2 linked regions of the Homo sapiens genome follow. The protein of the gene in region 1 binds, or shares a complex with, the protein of each later gene. Each region holds a gene or a part of one and is shown on either strand. Other genes may lie near its edges.

The links. The genes of interacting proteins can lie anywhere in the genome.
Region 2: INTS7 (region 1) and INTS9 share a complex: the UniProt entries of both Homo sapiens proteins name them as parts of the integrator complex.

The regions. Positions count from the first base shown.
Region 1 is NC_000001.11:212,004,549-212,011,571, forward strand, and holds part of INTS7 (integrator complex subunit 7), read right to left. Parts: intron 6,874-7,023; coding exon 6,827-6,873; intron 2,902-6,826; coding exon 2,702-2,901; intron 2,214-2,701; coding exon 2,091-2,213; intron 1-2,090. UniProt on the Homo sapiens protein: Component of the integrator complex, a multiprotein complex that terminates RNA polymerase II (Pol II) transcription in the promoter-proximal region of genes.
Region 2 is NC_000008.11:28,886,952-28,894,427, forward strand, and holds the start of INTS9 (integrator complex subunit 9), read right to left. Parts: upstream 3,019-7,476; 5' UTR 2,932-3,018; coding exon 2,923-2,931; exon of another isoform or gene 2,891-2,922; intron 1-2,890. UniProt on the Homo sapiens protein: Component of the integrator complex, a multiprotein complex that terminates RNA polymerase II (Pol II) transcription in the promoter-proximal region of genes.

The sequences.
Region 1 (7,023 bases):
AACATGTTCATGCACTGGAAGACAATATTATAAAGTTACCAATTTCTTACAAACTAATCTTTATATTCAGTGTAATCCCAATCAAACTGTTAAATTTGACAAGCTGATTCTGAAATTTATATAGAATTGTCAAGGACTAACAAAGTATGAGTATTCCAAATATATAAAAAATAACTATGAATCAACAGAAAAATAGGCAAGAGACCTGAATAGCCATGTCATAAGAGAAAATCCAAATGGTCAATAAACATATTAAAAAGGTGTTCAATTTCTTTAATAATCAAGGAGCTACACATAAAAAGTACAACTTCTAAACTGGTAAAAAACGTAAGTCTGATAATTCTATGTGTTGGTACGGATGTGATTAATGGACGCCCTCATACACAGCAGGAATGTAAACTGGTTCATTGACTTTGGAAAACAGTTTGACATCATCTGTTAAAACTGAAGATACGCATTTTCTGTAAGTCAGAAATTTCATTCCCAGGTATACACTCTAAAGAAATTTGCGTGTGTGAACTGGGAGACAAACAGAAGAATGTTCTGCACTGTTTGCAATAGGCCCATGCGGAAATAACCCATCGAGAGCAAATAAACTGTGATACATTCATACAATGGGATAGTACATTACAATTAAAGGGGAAAGACATGGATGAGTCTCACCAGTGTAATGCTGAGCAAAAGAAACAAAAACAAAGCTAAACAGTATTCTTTAGGAAGACATGTGAAGAAGGTAAAAGAAGAGCAAAGAAATTATTATCATGAAAGTCAAAATGGTGGTTTGCTTTTGGAAGGTGTAAAGTTTCAACCAGGAAGGACCACGCAAGGGAAGGAGGCAGGGTTCTGTGATCCTGTAATGTTCTATTTCTAGCTGGATGGTAGTTGCATGGGTTTTCACTTAAAAGTATTTAAAATATTTATACATTTTACATACTTTTCTCACTTAAAGGTATTTAAACTATTTATATATTTTACATACTTTTCTGTATGTATGATCTATCTCACAATAAGAAAAAAATGAGAAGGAATAATACTGTGCTTCTCACTCATCTTTCTAAATAACTGGGTTTGGTTCTTTGTACAAATTCTCTAAAATGACTAAAGTGGCTGGGCACATTCTCTTCTTGGAAAGATAGCATTATTTAGTAGAAAAAGCAATAAGACTAGGGATCAGAGGACAGAAGCTCTCTTAATTAAATTCTTAATTTACTTCTCTTAAGATGCTCTCTTAAGCATATTAAGTCTCTCTGAACCCTAACTGCTTATCTATTAAATGCAGATTTAACAACTGCCCTTATCTTGGGATATCTGTGACTATCAAATCATAATATAGTAAATTAAAAGATGTTTAGAAAACAACAAACAAACAAACAGAAAAACAAACACAGCAGTTTAGTTTTAATAATCTGAAATTCAAAGATTTTTAATCCACTGGAGTCATGATGAAGCTGAGAGATAAAAACTACCGTTCCATTTTAAATAGCATTATTTGCAAAATGGTGTTATTTCTATCGGTAATGGGTAAACAAACAGGGTTCTATTTTGAGAAAAAAATAAACATAAAATATTAATTTAACCTAACAGATGGTAAGAGATGGTGTCAAAGATGCACATTAAAAGTCTAAAGAGTGAGATCTGCTCTTCTGTTTACAAAAGAAGACTTAGGAATGTCTTCAGCTCTCCAGGAAGAGAGAAATATATTTCCCAAGTTGCCCATCCAGCCCTACCTCCATTACAGATAACATTCAGCCCCTAAATTTTTCTCCCCAAATTGACTGAAAAATACAAGAATAAAAAAACCAAACCAATGTAATTGGGCTTCTCAATTAGCCTTAGTGCCACTATGGGAGAATGAACAAGCAACTGAGTGGCAAGTTTCACTGACTAAAACAAACATTGAAGTATAGAAGTTTTATGTATTTATTGTGCCACTTATAAAATAACTGCCACAAACATCAACAATGCTTTTAGAAGTTTTTCATATTCAACCACTTAGAAGATGACAAAGACAATATAAAAATGCAAAACATTTTACTATATTATAATGTTATATTATTTTTTCTATATAAAATGTTACAAGTTCTACATACCTGAATATTCTCCCTACTCCAAGTATGTGGTGTTTTATTAGCAAGTAATTTCAGATCTTGAATAGCAAGTCTCTTTACTGCCTTCCTGGGATCATTCTTCAAATACTGCAACAGAAGCTGAATCTATAAAGGAAATAAGTCACTCCATAAACAATACTGTAACTGAAATGATCATTAGAAATGCAGTGTAGTTTAGTGAAACTTATAAAGGGACAGGACTCACTTCAAATCAGAGCCCTGTCACTCACTAGCTATGTGCCCACATTTGGGCCTCTTTCTCCATGTTTGTAAAATACTACCATTTAACTTTAAAGTTTTAGCACAGGCCCTGGCATTTTACAGATACTCAATCCTTTCTTTTTTTTTTTTTATACGGCCAACTTCACACCCAGCCATGTACTCCATAACATCTCATTTTCCTCAAGGGCTCCCAACAATCAGTACTGTGAACAGAGAGAATAAAAAAGCAAGCAAAAGCAAATTAATCTGACCTTTATTAGAGAAAAGAACCTTAATGTCCTCAAGACTTGTGGGCCACTTTCTTATTTCTAATCATATATTTAATATGTAAGTTTACCAAAGATAGGCAGTTTAAAGAAAATTGAAATTACCTGCTTAGGTGTATCAACCAAAGATGACGCTGCAAGCAGAGTGAAAGTGTGCAAAGACACAATCACCATTTTGGTGGACGGATAGGATGTGACCAGCTGTTGTAAAAGCTGACGAGCACTGGAAGCCAAGATTGCATCATGGTGCATGTGCTGTAGAATGGGTATCAATTTTAGCTTCAAGTCTACTGGTGTCGCTAAACCTAGACACAAAAATAATTCTCAAGGTATTTGTGATCACCATCCTTAATAATATTCCAGATTTAAAAGCTGTGACTCATTTAGCAAAATTGCACTTGAAAAACACAGTATACTAATATATTTATAACATTAAAGATTATACTAGAACCAATTGATAAATTCAATATTTTTTCCTAAGTATTTATCTTGACATTAACTTTTCAATGATTATAAAACTACATGCTGATAATAAAAACTGCCTTTAAAAAGCACAGTAGAAAGCAAAGTCATATTTGCTGCCTATTTCCTCTCATTGTCATAGTAAAAAAATTATACATACACATATACATATATATACACAAACACACACACTTGATGGCTACAGTCTGATTATACTTATGATTTTAATTATTTCCTTCAACAACTAAATCATAATCAGGATGTGAATAAACTGTGTGTAGAATGGTTTCGAAGTCCTCTGAACTTTGTGTAGTAAATGCCTTTCTTTATTGCATACACGACTGGATCCATGAAGACTAACCCTAATCCACGTTTTCCTGTCAACAGTGGAGCGAAACCAACAAATCTTTTCTCTATGGCATGGCTTTGTGGTCATGGTGAACACAAATTTCTCAGTCGTAATGTACCACATACATGCCACAAGCTAATTATACTCTGCGTATTGCTGGCTTTTCCATGGTGAAATAATTGTGGGTATGAACGTAAGACAGCATTTCAACGTCCAACAGTTGCCTACGTCAATAAACTCCCTTGCTAGATGGCCTCTACTTGGGTTTGCCAGAGGGAAAAGAATGAGATCAGAGTATTCCCTGCTTTCCTCTCTGCAGGGTCACATCATGCTCATGTTATTACTTTGTTCCTTAAGGTTCTGAATGCACTTGACACTGCTGACCATTCTATCTTTGAAACTCACTCCTAATGGCTTTGGCTCTTCCACTTTTACTGTTTTCTGACCTCTTTCTCTGGCTGTTCCTTCTTAATCTCCTTTGTAGTCTCCTTGTCTGTCTACGCTTTAATTTCTGATATTCCCATAGGTTGGTAATAAATTCTCTTCTCATTCTATGTGTTTTCCCTGAGTGAGCTGATATAATCCCATGGTTTCCATTATCGGCTAAATGTGAAAGGCTGCCACCCATCCGTCCTCCTGCCCCGACGTCAGACGCATGTATCTCATTATCTTCTGGTCATCTGCACTAGGAGGTCTCAGAAGCATTTTGTATTAATAAGGCTCAAAGAGAACTGATCTTAACCTTGAAACTGCCCCTCCAAAAATATTCCTGTCTCAGTAAATCACATCATTATAGCTTCTTAGACCCTGGAGTCTTTCTTATTAGTGAAAGGATTCTATCACATCCCATTTCCAAATGTATTAGCAAATCTTATTGGTTCTAACTTCAAAATAAAACCCAAACTGACTCTTTCTACCTCCGTTGTTACCATGCCGATCCATTTCCACTACCATCTCTTGACTAAATTATTGCAAGTCTCCTAAGTATTCTCCCTGCTTAGGCCTTTCCCCATGGCAGACTCCACTCTTATATCCCCCTCTTTCCTCCACTGCAAGTTTATTCTCAACCCAGTACTCAGAGGGATCTTTGTGTTTACAGGCATCTTTACTAAAGATTTAGGGAGGCTCGGAGATTTTACTTGGCAGAAACAAAAGTGGCTTAAAACCAAATGTCAGGATTCTGTTCCTAAAACTCCTCTTTCATTTCCATATCTTAGGTTCCAATTTTCCTCCACCCACACTCCTATGTTTTCCTCTGCCTCTCTCTCCTGCTAATTCCTGTTCTTTCAGATTTTTTTAAGATAAAATTTAAGGAACAATAAGGTAATGAATCTTAAGTGTACAGATTAATGTATTTCTACATATGTATATTCTCATATAACTGTCATCAGATACACAGAATACTCCAGCATCCTAGAAGGCTCACCTGTATAGCTTTCATCAACTCCCTTGCTATCTACCCTTTGTTTGGGTTTAACCAATGGAGAGCCCAGCAGGAGTTGCAGAGAAGAATGAGGTCAGAGTATTTATTCCCTGGTTCTCTCACTGCAGGGTCACATCATGCTCCTGGAGGTTAGCTTCTCAAAGTGGTCCTCCTGACATGATACCAATTTTCTAGTAACCTCTCTTTAACCTGTACCCTTAGAGGTATGGTAAAAGCTATTACGGGTTCAAGAACTACATTATCCCCTATAGTACACCCTGACCATGCCTTTGTGAATGGTTCCTTTATTACACCTTCCTTGAGTTATCTTAATTCAAATGTGCCACCTGTTTCCTGCTGAGATCTTGTCTGATGCAGCAGGCACTGATAAAATCTGCTCAATGAATAAGTGATGCTTCCTTCTAATGTCATAAGGATACTTTTCTGCAGGAAAGCCCTTTTGCTAATGGTGGAAGAAAAAACACAAAGGAATAAAGGGGAACACAACAAAGCTCATTCACTGTATCTTGGTCTTTAAGTGATTTTTATTATTTATGCAAGTGAGCAAGTTCTCTTTAATTTTAATTTGAAGGACAATTTAAATGCGTGCAAAATATAACTACACTAAGCAATTCATGCCTTAGAAGGGCACAGTAGCATAAGTGGTTAAAAGCATCGGCCTCAAAGCCAAACTGTAAGTTATCAGCTTTTTTACTGTGAACCAATCATTCAGCTTTAGTGTGGCTCTATTTCCTTTCCTGTAAAACGAACATAATGGTATTACCTATCCAAGGCTGCCACATTGCACAATTCAAAGGAATGCTCTTTATAAGAATATAAACAAAGTGGTGTTCTCTAGAGTCAGGCAATGCTGTAGCCCAAGAGCTCCCTTTTATGACTGCTAGGATAAATAGGGGTATGACACGTGTATTAACCCTATGGGAGCTCTTGGGCTCCCATAATGACTGTTGTAAGGATAAATAGGGTTAATACACATGACTTATGGTATAAGAGACTGGAAAACCAGGGCTTTGTAGTCTATGGTAAGGAATCTGGATTTGATTCTAAATGCAACTGGAAGACACTGGAGGGACATTAGCAGAGAGTTCCAGAGCTCCTAATAATATTAGCCTCTCTCACACAGAGCAGTCTTCCCTACACTAATCATGCCCCCCATAAGTATGCTTTGGTGAATGATGGACCACATGACAGACGGTGGTCCCATACGATTATAATGGAGCTGAAAAATTCCTAGTAACTTCATAGACCCTGTAGTCATTGTAACACCACAGTGCAATATATTACCTTTTCTACCTCAGATATACAAATCATTTTGTTACAATTGCCTATGGGTATTCAGCACAGTTACATGTTGTATAGGCTTAGAGCCTAGGAACAATAGGCTATACCATACAGCCTAAGTGTACAGTTGGCTATACCATTTAGGTTTATTTAAGTACACTCTATGAAGTTCAAACAACAAAACTGCCTAAGGACCCATTTCTCACACAGGATCCCCATTGTTAAGCAATGCAAGACTATATCTGCATGGCTCACTCCTTTCTCTCCTTCATGTCTCACTCAAGTATCACCTCATCAGAGACTGTCTCTGATCAATATATACAAAAAAGTCCCTTCTCTGATCAATATATATAAAATAGATAAGTCCCTTCTCTCAACCCACCAACGACTTACTTTTGAGACTCTCTATCCTTCTTCTCTCACTTTTTCACCATAGCACCAGAAATGTCATAGGCACATTTGTCTATCCCCACACACCCCACCCCTGACTAGAGTGTAGGTTAGATGGGGGTAAGGACTTTGTTTTGCTCATTCCTGTATCCTCAGCATTTAGAACAGTTTGGGCAAATAGAAGATACTTAATAAATATTATTTGAATGTATGGTGACTAGCAAATAATAAGTACTTAATTAGTGTTAGCAACTATTATAAATCTAATTAAGTCACTTCATAATACTAAATGAAGAATACATACCTTGAATCATTTCACTGATTTTGTTACAGATTCCTACAGCAAAATCCCTTTGGAAAAAGAGAACAGAGAACAGAAAAAACTTACATTTGCTTATATTTTCTAAGGACTTAAAAGAAATAAAACACAATTAGCGCAGAAGAAATACAATATTCCAAACTGCAACTAATATTCCAAGGTCAGGTGCTCGGGTTAGGGGA
Region 2 (7,476 bases), on another chromosome or scaffold:
TCACTCTTTAATCTTTTCTCAAGGGTATCCATAGACCTTGATAAACCTTCAGAAATTATTTACCAATTATTTACACAGAATCTACATGGGGGAGGACAGACACACGCCAATAATTACAAGTGCTACAAATAGGAAGTATGCCATCAAATATATAACAGGGGTACTTAATTCAACGAGGCCCTGAAGAAGTGTTATTTAGACAGAGATCTGAAATATATGAAGAAATTAGCCAGGCAAAAAAGAGTGAGGCAGGCAATGGAACATATTCAACCAAGTTAAGTGTAGGAGGTTATCCTAAGGGCAAAGGAAGATACTGAGAGGGTTTCATGGAACTCTGCAATTAAAACAACTTCCGGATGCAGAGGAAAGAATGAATTTGAGAGGGTTAAGACTGAATGCAGAGAGACCAGATAAGGGGTCTTGTTGAATTCCGATTACAAAGACAGTATTCTAGTTGGACTGGAGAGAAATAGAACCTATTTAAGAAAGCTGCATTTAGGAAGCAGAATCAATAAGAGGTGGTCATAGATTGTGTGTGGGAAGGGTACTCTGGAAAGTGAATCTCAAAAATGAGAAAATGCTAAACAAAATGTGTTTTTGTTTCATAATTATAAATTTAAAACACAGCCTATTACATATTTCTGAAGCAGTACACAAAATTAAAACTTTTAGGCCATGGGAGGACTTATTCCAACCATTTGGGAGGCATGACACACCCATCTAACTTACTGAGCAACAATGCTTTTGGTATGTTGATGGGAATTCTCAATTACATTTATCTATCAACTACCAAATAAATTTTAGTATGTAATACATAGTTGCAAAGTAAAGAGGGAGTATGAGTATCAATAGAATACTTCCTTTTCCTCTGAGACATCTTTGGTTCTTAATGGAAAAAATAATTTTCCACTTTTTTACAATCCCCGGTTTCATATTTCTAAATAAATTAAGCAGGAGGATTTTATGAGCAAACTAAAATATATGTAAAGTAAACCCTGGCTTTTTGATACCCTCACTAATGAGTTGTTATGGGAAAAACTATTTCACACTTCCCTGCCTTCTTAAACTGAACACATTAAATATAATTTGCTCTTTATTGAGAACACAGGGTCCATGCTTTAGCCAATAAGGTACCAAGCTCTTATGCTCCTATAAGCTGACCTCTTTCATGGAAGGCCCTGGCTTACTTATCCTTATCAGTTCAAGAGTCACGTTTCCAGGAAGCTGTCCCCTGACCTCCCCAATCCTCTGTTCTCTGAATTCCCAAAACCCTGAACACGCCTCTATTTCACCATGAACACAGTGAATTATAATTTCGGACCAGGCATGGTGGCTCATGCCTGTAATTCCAGCACTTTGGAAGGTTGAGGTGGGCAGATACCTTGAACCCAGGAGTTTGAGACCAGCCTGGGCAACATGGTTAAACCCCATTTCTACAAAAAAAATAAGCAGGGTGCAGTGGTGCGCGCCTGTATTCCCAGCTATATGGGGAGACTGACGCGGCGAGAGGATCGCTTGAGTCCGAAAGGTGGAGGTAGCAGCGAGCTGAGAACGCGCCACTGCACTTCAGTCTGGGCCCCACAAAGCCAGACCCTGTCTCTAAATAAATAAATAATAACTTTGGTTTACTTTTCTATCTTCTTCTTAGGTTGCATGCTTCTGTAGGGCAACGGCTATGACTTTTAATTCTGCATTATTAAATGTGTAACACACTGACCCAGGGGTAAGTTGCTATTCTCAAGGTTTAGTGACCCGCATCCTTCCCCTTATATAAACAGATTTATACGGGGACAATTTCGGAATTGAATCCACTTTTAATACTTTCTCTGACTTCGCAGAAAACAGCTGGCTTTGCAGAATATATGCCTGTAGCACAATGATTATCAAGATGAGGGTAGGTGTGTTGTGTGGTTTGGCAAAGCATGTTCAGATAATTATATAAATGGTAAAAAATAAACTTTTTTTTTTTTTGAGACAGAGTCTCGCGCTGTTGCAAGGCTGGAGTGCAGTGGCGCGATCTTGGCTTACTGCAACCTCTGCCTCCCGGGTTCAAGCGATTCTCCTGCCTCAAGTAAAGCTTGACAATAACTTGGCTGCACAAATATGGGTTTTAAAAGGTTGAGAAACAGTGTTTCACACCTGCCTTTCTACACTATGTTATTAACTAATTGAATCGAGTTGGAATAAACTAGTTAGACTTGTGTGCACAATGAGTCAAATGGCTCAAATCAAAGGTCTGAGGAGCCTCCATGAACCAGGTGCTTGAGCTGTGTGATGTTAAGACTTCAGGTATACCGAGCACGCTTCATTCAGCCTTGGCTCATGAAGTCCCTACAGTCTTAGAATGGAATACCATATAACACTTCTCTGCCCATCTAAATCCCATGCAGGGTTTAAGACTCAACTTCTCCACACTCTGACCTCGTCCTGAATTCCAAGGGCAGTGAGGAGTCTATATAACAGGATATTTAATAAGTGATTACGTTCTGCTGGATGTTTTTTACTGTCTGCTTAAATCTAGCCAGTCTCAACAACAGTAGGGAGACAGGATACTCAAGCGCCAATCGAATGGAAACGGATTGTTAACAGCCTATTATAACCCTCACGTGGGAACCAGGACGTCCAAACCTGGTTAACAGAGCCCACAGAGTTCATGGGCGAAGGACTGTGACAGTCAACCTCTTGTCTGAACAAAAAGACCCACTAACGAGTGAAAAAAGACCTCCTGGGAGGGATGGGGTGGGGGAGAGGGAATTCAAACCTTCTCAACAACAAAAAGCAGCTTTCCTTAGCCCACTCCACTTTCCAGCTCAATAATTGCTACCCCTCCCGTGCGACGATTCCCTGCCCAACGTAGGAAAAAAAGAGGTCCAAAAGGTTATAGCATCACCTTTGCCCTCTGACCTAGGAGCGAAGACTCACCAGTTTCATAATGGACTTTTGGTGGTTCAATAGCAGTCACTGAACTCCTCAAACCCAGGAAGCGTCTTCCGGTGCAATCTCCGCCACCTGCCAGCCGAGAGCATCGCGGGACTTGCAGTCTTTCATCCTCACGTCCCTTCCAGGGGAATAATGGGAAATGTAGTCTCCCCTCCAGGCATCATGGGAACTGTGGTCGCCTTTCCTTTTCCTCCCTTTCCTCTCCGAACGCCTCCTTCCGTCAGCTCAAATTCATCCCAGCCGCCAATGCATCCTCCCTCTCCACCCCAGCATGATATCATGTCTTCCTTACGGGCCTGGGGCCCATGGTGTTCTGGGATGTGTAGTCCCGACGGCTCCGACTCCCCTTTCCCTCCTCCCAAAGGGAAGGCGGATGGGCACGGGGCTTGCCGGAAGTTGTAGTTCCCTTGGCCCTCTAGGCGCCGGGCTCCGCAATTTTTCTCAGGGGAGGCAGGAACTACAACTCCCAGGGACGCCCGGCGGCAGCAGGTGGGAGAGGGGCTGTTGATATCAATATGGCGGTTGTCAGCCAGACAAAGACAGTCAGTCTGATGTGATTGAGACAAGGGAGGTTTTTCAGGGGGAGACTGGGAGATAGGGGCCTCCCCTCCCCCTTCTCCTCTTCCTGCGCCGGCCTCAACCCCTCCCCAGTCCCCTCCCGACGGGCGCCCCACGCGGAAGACACCCCTCCCCCTCCCGCCTTCCCTCCTCCCTATCTCAGCCCTTCGTACTGGGACGTTGGGGAGGGGGCTGTGCCGGGCGGAGAGAACTCAGCGAGGATTCTGAGGTGAGTCGAGCGGTTTTGAAGCCGGACTACCTCAAGTCTCTTTCCTCACTTCTTTCTCTTCACTTAAAACAATTTTTTTGGAGGGGTTTTGGGGAGGAAGTGAGCGGACGCTGGGGATGGGTCTCGTAAGCGGCCGGATTGAGAGGAGGGAGGAAGCAGGGGGCTTCCGAGTGGGTGACCCAGACGCGGGCTGTGGGGTGGGGCAGTTCGTGGGGTCCGGTCCTGGAAAGGCGTCGACTGCCCCCCAACTCTTCTGGTTTCCTCTACGATGAGCGGAAGGTTTGAATCCTGGAGGTGGGGTCTCCGGTGTGGAGTTCTGGAAACTGTGAGGTGATTTGCAGGTGTGTTGGTTTGTTTGGGGTGTGTAAGTGTGTTTAAACTGTGTGACGTGTACTTGTGTGCTCTGCTCGTCTTGGAGCGGTGTCTGTAGATGGGAAGTTAGACAGCGCGAGTCCTCGCTCGCTCTGGGCCTGGGCTGAGGGGCGGGCGTGAGGTCCTGGTGCTGGGCGTTTGGGCTGGCGACGTGGTGCGAGGCGGCCGGGCTCAACAACTCGCTTGTGTCCCGTCGCCCGCTCACACTCTGCCACTCGCCTCCGCCCCCTCCCCTGGACGAATCTCCACCCCAAACTCCAGCCACGAGAACTGTAGAGATGGTGTGATGTGGAGATGGATTTTTTGCATCCTCAAGTCGGTAGATAGGTGGGAAAGGAAAAGTGTTTCTTAATATTTTATTCCGGAACCGTGTTTTGGTTACACTATTGGGGCTACTTTGAAAGGCGTCCTCCACCCACCTTCACCCCGAAACAGTAGGTAGAGGTATCTTGTCTTCGTGTGAATTAGATGAATAATTGCTGAAGATTCGGGGGGCCTGGGGTGGGGGTCGGGAGTGCTGGATTGTGTACGCGTCTGTGTGTGTCTACTAAGGAGACGGAATGTCTGTTATGTATCTGGAGATAGGGCGACTTATTTTCGTAGCAGGAGGAACTGTTGGAAATTATTTGCGGGAGAGGGGGTGCGCCGAAAGGCGCTGCTTGTATTTTTCTTCTACTCCACCCTGTTCTGTCTTGCATTTGCCTGAAAGCTGGTGGAATGGAACAGTGAAGAAGCATTGGGTGAGTAAAGGGAAGAATGCAGTTGGCATTAAAGATAACACTATGTAAAGTTGAATGGTATAAAGTGATTACTGTTTTTATTTACGCTGAAGCTTAAAAAAAATCACCCATGTATCATATAAGGTAGAGTGATGTGACTAGCTCATTTCTCTGGTATCCTGCAGGTACAGAAACCTCTGGCTTCCCTCTTCCTTCCTTCCTATCCTCCCTCCTTCCTTCCTTCCTTAAGTCCTTCCTTTCTTTCTTGGCTTCGTACAACATTTCTCTTTCTGTTGGACATAATACCGCCTGTGTCTTTTTATTTAGTTTGTGCTAATATGGTTGTGCTTTTTGTGGTTTTACCATAAAATGCATCGTTAAATGCATTTATTATTTTGCATTTATGCTGCAGGTAATTATCACATCAGGATTGCAGTGCTTTGCATTAAACTTATTTTAAAATTGTGCAATTAAGTTGCTTGATCTAGCTGAATTATGTTTCTAAGTCAAAGTTGGGAAATTTGAATTCTAAATTTTTTTTCAAATTTCAATTAGAGTTAAAAAGGAAAGGATTGCAACATCTCTTATTTCTCACAGTTTTTAATATTTAATAACACACTAGGAGAATTTAAGGTCATATTTTGTACTTCCTTATTAAGTTCTTCAATAATCCTTATGTGACAATTTTTTTAGTGTAACGGATTTTTAAAGTAAAGAAATTGGCATAATTTCTATTTCGACTGTTGAGAATTGAATATATTCCCCAAACTTATCAATTCTTGAATCTGCCACCTATCATCAGTAAGGGACCTTTAGATTCTATGATAACTGAAAACCACATTGATAGAGTGTGTAATTTTATGATATGTCCTCTAACCATTGATTTAAAATTTTTGCTGTTGGTCATTCACACAGATAAGGGGGACTGAAAGAGTGAGGTAGCATGTATATTTCAATTGACCTGAATAGAAAAAAAAATGTGATTTCTAAATCTCAGATGTAGAATATACAATATGTTGATTCAAAACTAAGCCATTAGTTTGTGATAGACCAGGATTTTCAGAATCATTTGTTTTAAGCTTGTATCTTAACTTGAAACACTACTTTGCAAAAACCAGAGAAAAATCCTACGTAACTACTTAACGGAGTGTTTTGTTTTATTTTTCTGAAGCATATTATAATAGTCATGGAGTTTTTTAAAAAATGTTTAATAATTATTTTAGAAGTAAAAAACCAACATGTTTGTTAATATTTTAAATTGGAAAAACACGAGTGTTTTCTCTTCCATCTACCCTTACCTCAAAATTTCTTTTTGTTTTGTCTATAGAAGTGCAAAGTTATTTACTTGAAAAAGCATTCATTAAACTTTTTCTGGCTACTAGTGGGATCAAAATCATTACATGTAAACCAAATATATTCCCAGCATTTGTTGGGGGTGATTCTGTTGCATTTTAAGTACTGGGCATTAAAATGATGTAAAGCCTTTACTGCAGGTTAAAGCATAAAACATTCTCAGCATGTGAGAGTCATATGGTTTACAAATAAAGTAGAAAACCAGGGCATGGGTGCTTGTCCAGCTTACAATTTCATCCCGTAACTGTGAAAGACACATTTATTTTAATGTGATTGCTTCTAAAGATGTTGCCTGTATTATGGGAAGTTGAAAATCTAAGCTGCTTTTAACTAATCTGTTGCTAGTTTAGTTTACTGCATTTAGTGAACACTATGTATGGTCACAAATACGCATCAAGGAAAGGAGCCTTTAGCTGGAAGTTGAATGCCTTTAGTGAGGCTTCGTTTTCACTGCTGTACAAACAGATTTCAGTCTTCTAGCCCAAATCCTCAGTTAAAACATCGCTAATAGAAACTTAATAGCTCAGTGTTCCTAAGTTACAAAATATGTGGCAACAAATCTGTCATTGTTACATCATTTAAAAAATAGCAACCAGCTTATGGCAATTTTTGTGGCAAGTGTTGATTGGAATTCTATTGCTTGTTTCATAGATATTGAATACATTGGGAATATTTAGGCTTAATTTGTGTATTTTGAGTCTCCTGTACACTGTATTCAGCACATCCCACATTTAGGGCTCCCGTGCAATTTAGTTCTGTTCATTTCATTGTAGCTCTTGCTTCTCTTATTTTTGTATACAGCTCTTTAAACCTGAATTATTTCTCTTGGGAATCAGGTATTTATGTAGAATGTTGTCATAAGTGAAAGTTGGCATACCACTCAACTTTTTAAATACATGAACATTTATAGATAAACCGAATAGTGCTCATTGAAAATGTGTTGGTTTTGTTTGTTTTGTGAACCAGCTTTATTTAGTTCTTTGGCTTCTGGAATTAATTTTGTAGCTCACTTTGCTATTCTTTGGCTAGATTTTTCTGTTAACAGTTGGCTTTTACTTCCCACTGTAGTAGAACTGTAATTTATTAAAGCATTGTTGTGAGTGAAAAGCATGGCTTGTCTAGAGTGCCATATATGTACACCCACAATACACTCATACATAAAATACTTTTATGTTTATTTATTTATTTATGAAATTGGTGTATATCTATCAGACATGCCTCCCATAAGAAAGAATCTGAGCCACAAATAGCAGAAGACCTTGAACTTTGACTGAAGCTAGAAACCAAAGAGTAACCAGCACATGT